2 separate regions of the Homo sapiens genome follow, and region 1 is linked to region 2. Evidence: fine-mapped expression QTL. A gene starts in region 2. The other region holds a variant in brackets. All regions are shown on one strand. Distances are from middle to middle.

What was found. PIP is the estimated chance that this variant, and not a neighbour inherited with it, causes the effect.
Region 1: its variant is fine-mapped to the expression of TET2 in blood mononuclear cells (TOPMed, PIP above 0.99). The same link has a PIP of 0.9 or more in whole blood.

What each region holds. Positions count from the first base shown.
Region 1 is chr4:105,292,203-105,295,112 of GRCh38, forward strand. The region is part of intron 2 of TET2-AS1 (TET2 antisense RNA 1); the gene reads right to left. It also overlaps the pseudogene RN7SL89P. Among named protein-coding and RNA genes, the nearest start is that of TET2-AS1, 59 kb to the right of the region's middle. The variant C/T (reference allele first, on the strand shown) is at 1,308.
Region 2 is chr4:105,145,338-105,148,247 of GRCh38, forward strand. TET2 (tet methylcytosine dioxygenase 2) reads left to right here and starts at 1,539. Exons shown (of 11, transcript NM_001127208.3): 1 at 1,539-1,642. LOC124900868 reads right to left here. Exons shown (of 3, transcript XM_047416559.1): 2 at 158-1,624. The coding sequence ends at 936. RefSeq lists silencers at 801-1,480, 2,444-2,513 and enhancers at 1,551-1,720, 2,064-2,113.

The DNA.
Region 1 (2,910 bases), 150 kb after region 2:
TTAATACCAGCCTCACTTTTCCCCATTCTTCACCTAAATGCATATTCAATTAAAAATTTCTTAAAAGAGTCTCACGTGACAGAGACAAATAGAGTGGTGATTAATAAAGCATAAGCATGGTTGACTGAGGGACCTGGGTCCAGACAGGGTTTCATCAACTACAAACTTGTTATTTATTAGCAAATTAGTAAACTTCTCTATGAGTTTGTCAGTAAAATGAGGATTATAACACCTACACCTCAGGAAACTTGAGAGAATTAAGTGAGATCACTCGTGTATGTCAGTCCTTGGTATAGTTTCTGTCATTATGTGTTCCAAAAATGATAGTTATTGGAGTTTAATTTTCTATAAATCTGAGTTTCACTTGGCATTGATTAATTTCAAAGTAAAATGTTTTTATAAAGTTTGAAAATGTAACAAAGTTCAACTATACCCATTCAATAATATGGATGAATCTAATAAATATTTAGCAAAAGAAGCCATACACAAGAGTACATAGTGTATTATTTAGTGCGTATGAAGTTCAAAATAGACAAAGCAAATCCATGTATTTTGAAAATCAGGGTAGCTACACTTTAGAGAAGATGGGGGTTGGTAGTGGGTAGTGACCGGCAGAGGGCTTGAGACAGAGGAATTTCTGATTTTAAAGTGCTGATAATATTCTTTTTCTGTATCTGGAAGCTGGTTACATGAGTGTATGCACTTGATGAAGGCTCACTGACCTTTATACTTATGATTGGTACTCTTTTCTGATATAGGTTAGACTTCATTATAAAGTTCACTAAATAAAGTTTTAAAAAGATAACAAAGTCATCACTTTTCCTACTATGGACAACTAGCTCCTCCCATTCATTCATGTTACAAATACTTATTAACTGCCTACTCTGTATGTTCCAGGCACAATTCTAGATGCATGAGGCACATCAGCAAATAAGAATCCTCCATTTGGACTGTTGTGGGGTGGGGGGAGGGGGGAGGGTTAGCATTAGGAGATATACCTAATGCTAAATGACAAGTTAATGGGTGCAGCACACCAGCATGGCACATGTATACATATATAACTAACCTGCACATTGTGCACATATACCCTAAAACTTAAAGTATAATAATAATTTTTAAAAAAACTAGAAAAAAAAATACAGCCTCCCCCCTCCAAAAAAAAAAAAAAAAAAAAAAAAGAATCCTCCATTTTCAGGAAGGGAAAAAAGAGGAAGAAAAAACCTGGCTAAAACTCCTGTTAATTAAGTTTCAATTTCCTCATGAGGCAAATGAAGATGATAAATATCCTGTCTACTTTTCAGAGTATA[C/T]TTATGTATTCTAAAACCTATCAGAAAAAGAAAAATCTTCTCCCCCAAGATCTCATAAACAACACACATTGATCTTGTGAGTAGTACCCTCAATGATTTCCTCATTGAGAGAATGAGGAAATGAGATTGAGAGAAAAGTATTTTTCTCACTGAGGCTCAGGCCTGTAGCCTCAGCTACTGGGGAGGCTGAGGAAGGAGGATTGCTTGAGTCCAGTTGTGGGCTGTAGTGCACTAGGCTGATCAGGTATTTGCACTAATTTGGCATCAATATGGTGACCTCTCATGAGCAGGGGACAATCAGGTTGCCTAAGGAGTGGTAAACTAGCCCAGGCCAGAACTGTAGCAGTTCAAAACTCCTGTGCTGATTAGCAGGGGGATGGAGTCCATGGGTAATCACTGTACTCCAGCTGGGGCAACAGAGAAAGACCCTACCCTGTCTTTTCTTTTTTTTTTTTAAGATATTTTTCTCAACTCTAAATATAGCCCTCCAAGCCTTCTTTACTTTGCCTTCTAGTGGGAGTTTCTAGTTACTGTTAGTTTCAAAATCCAGAAATTTGGAATAGTACCTAAGAGCAATTTCAGTGGAGAGATCATTCAGAAATATCAATTTCCATCAGTATCCCCCAAACTACTCATAAACTCCCCCAAAATGTCATAAAACCTCCAGCATGGCATCCAGGAGCAGAAAAAGAAAGTCATAAAATCTGAGTTTAGGAGTACTGTCAACAAAATTGCAGACTAGGAAGCTCCAAGTCTTCACTTCCCCATGGAAACACTTTTAAAAAAAGAAAAAAAAAAAAAAACAGAAAAAAAAAGAAGAAACTGCTGGCTAAATTAACCCTACAGAAGCTCTGGAAAAATAATCACAGGTCTATAGCAATCAAGCAAATGCAAAAATCAAGAAAAAGCTGTATTCAAAATGATAAAAAAAAAATCATGCGCTGTTTTTATTTACCTTTGCCCTACCACCTCTCTGGCAAGGCAGTCTTGGTCTGGAAGAGGAAGCTTCCCAGTTTCCAGTTCCTTCCCATAAACTAGAGGGGCAGAGAAGACCTTATTTGCAAAGTTCTAACCTGTCTGGGGGCTACCTGAAGGTCTAGTCTGTTTTGCCTAACTTACATCTCAAATAAACAGAAGCAGTGGGTGCCGCTTATGAAAGCTACAGAGAGACTAAGACCAGCAGATGCCTGGAGCAAAAGGTTATGGGTAGAGACCTACAATAGGCCATGTAAGGTCCTAAGAAGCTAAAGGTGAGACTTTGGAAATGTAAAATATTCAAGAACCACCTTGTATATGGGGAAAATTGAGAAAGTCACACAAAGGCTCAGAATAGACCCATATGCAGAAAAGACTGGAGAAGAATTTGTTTTCCATTCAGGCTGGTCCCAAGGCCTAGAGAACACCCAGCTAATAAAAGAAGGACTACCCCTGCTCAGAGACAGTCCATAAAGACTGGGAGACATGGCTATTTTTCCAAATGCCCAATTTTTAAACAGTTTTTAACAAATTCACAAGGCATACAAGGAAACAGGAAAACATGTAAAACCCATTCCAAACAAGAAAATAAATTTCCAGAAATAAATTCCTTTCCCATCCTCCCCAA
Region 2 (2,910 bases):
TAGTATTGACTTAAGGGTACTGTGATCACCATGCAGTGATCCCATAAAAGATGTGACCAAAATACCCACTTAAAATTTGAACGTCAGTCATGTAAGAACATGTAAAAGATGAAGGGAATATTTCAAAAACGACTATCTGACGTAATATGATACTTACTATGACTCATATGGGCTTTGTTCTTCATCTCATCTTCAAATAAAAAGTTGATGATTAGAAAAAGGAGCATTAGAAGGGGGAAGTAACACTACTCGGCAATAGAGAAAAACTCCGGTCAAAGGAAGAGCATAGTTACAGAGCTCCGAATGTCAGGGAAAATCAAGCATCCGTCATTCGGAATTAGCTCTGTATCGGTCGGTTTCTTCATTACTTAATTGTACGGGGGGAAACTACTTCAAAGTAAGGGCTCTTACGAGAGGCAACTTAAGCATTTGAAAGTGCAGGTTTATTTCCTCCTAGCGAGAAGTAGGGGGTCACTAGTGAGAAACCTATTTCAATCTGTGAGACGCCCCCTTCTACTCAGCCCACGTGGCTAAAGTAAACAGAAGGTGGGCCGGGGCGGGGAGAAACAGAACTCGGTCAATTTCCCAGTTTGTCGGGTCTTTAAAAATACAGGCCCCTAAAGCACTAAGGGCATGCCCTCGGTGAAACAGGGGAGCGCTTCTGCTGAATGAGATTAAAGCGACAGAAAAGGGAAAGGAGAGCGCGGGCAACGGGATCTAAAGGGAGATAGAGACGCGGGCCTCTGAGGGTAAGGTGGGCGCAAGCGGAGGTGTGGTGCGGGGAGAGGTGCCAGTGGGTGGAGGCGGGGGCCAGAGCGAGGGCACGTGCGGGTACACTCCGGAGGAGGTGGGTGCGCGCGGGGGCGTGTGCGCGGGACCTCGAAGTGGTGGTGGAGTGCAGACCAGCAAAAAGTTTCAAAGGGAAATCTTAGATGTCACGTCTTTGTCCAGGCACCCGTGCCATCCCAACCTCCCACCTCGCCCCCAACCTTCGCGCTTGCTCTGCTTCTTCTCCCAGGGGTGGAGACCCGCCGAGGTCCCCGGGGTTCCCGAGGGCTGCACCCTTCCCCGCGCTCGCCAGCCCTGGCCCCTACTCCGCGCTGGTCCGGGCGCACCACTCCCCCCGCGCCACTGCACGGCGTGAGGGCAGCCCAGGTCTCCACTGCGCGCCCCGCTGTACGGCCCCAGGTGCCGCCGGCCTTTGTGCTGGACGCCCGGTGCGGGGGGCTAATTCCCTGGGAGCCGGGGCTGAGGGCCCCAGGGCGGCGGCGCAGGCCGGGGCGGAGCGGGAGGAGGCCGGGGCGGAGCAGGAGGAGGCCCGGGCGGAGGAGGAGAGCCGGCGGTAGCGGCAGTGGCAGCGGCGAGAGCTTGGGCGGCCGCCGCCGCCTCCTCGCGAGCGCCGCGCGCCCGGGTCCCGCTCGCATGCAAGTCACGTCCGCCCCCTCGGCGCGGCCGCCCCGAGACGCCGGCCCCGCTGAGTGATGAGAACAGACGTCAAACTGCCTTATGAATATTGATGCGGAGGCTAGGCTGCTTTCGTAGAGAAGCAGAAGGAAGCAAGATGGCTGCCCTTTAGGATTTGTTAGAAAGGAGACCCGACTGCAACTGCTGGATTGCTGCAAGGCTGAGGGACGAGAACGAGGTCAGAGCGCTTCTCTTATGCCGCGAAACTCTCCCTTTCTTCTCCCCTTCGCTTTTTCTCGGGCTTCCAGGGACTGGGGAGCAAACCCTGTAGTGTCACCCACAAATACCAAGAGGGAAGAGGGAAGCTTCACAAATTACTGGAGCCTCTTCAACATGGCTGACAAATATAGTTTTAATTCCCTCTACCCCTTTTAAACCTGTAGTTCTGTGTTCTCTTCTCTCCTCCTAATGCTCGTCCCCTCATCTCCCAGAAAACTTACCTTTGTGCCTCCGACGAGCCGGTTTCCCGGCCTTTTTTAATCCTCAGAAAAGTGATTTTTAAATTTGCTTTCCTTTCTAAAATAGTTCAGCTTTGGGGGCACTACTTTTCCCTTTAATCCTCTTCCCCTGTTTCTTTCGTGTAAGTGAAACGAGTCTCCCGTTTATCCTGAACAACCTCAGAGAGAACACTGATAGGGTGTTTTTCGACCCTTTTATCAGCTGTAGGGTCTGGGTCTGGGTTTGTGTCTGCCTCCTCCTACCTTCTTATCCCCCTTTAGGGGGCTGTACGAAGTGAATGTCACAGGGAGTGGAATTGGAGTACACTGAGTGGGTTTTTTTTTTCCTTAAGTCCGCGCGTTTTGTTAGCGGCGCTGAGTGAAAGAGGAAAGAATAGTTTCTCTGGTTCCCCAAACAAGACCAGAACTCACTTTTCTCAAGGTACATAAGTCAGCGCTGGGCTGAGCCTTCCAGCCTGGGGAATGTATGTAAGAGAATTTATGGACAAATCTGTGTCCCGGCTTTGTGCTTCTCCCGAATCAGCTTCGTTTGGTTCCTTGGTAAGTGACAGGCAGACACAAAGGCAGGCGCAGGCCCGGGGAGGGGGCGGGAGGGGGTGGGGAGCGCAGCGTTGGAGTTGCAAGACTGCAAGGTCAGGGGCGCCTAAAGAAATGAAACCCAATCCCAGCAAAGAAGTGAAGAGCAGATTTATAACAGTCCCATCCAAATTTCTCTTTGGCTTCTCTCTTTGGTCTTTCATCTCTCTGCCTTTCTCTCTGTGTCTCCTCTCTACTCTTTCTTCTCTCTCTCTCATACACATACACACACACACACACACACACACCTCACTCGCATCTTGCTGAATCTTTTCACTGGGACTGCTTGTCTAGTTTTATTAAGCTAATAGGGTTTGTATGGAGAGTTTTCTACCTATGACATAATGAAGTGTGGCCTGGATAGACTCCTGGAAAGGCCGAAAATGAAATATAAGTGTTATTTGCTGGTTAT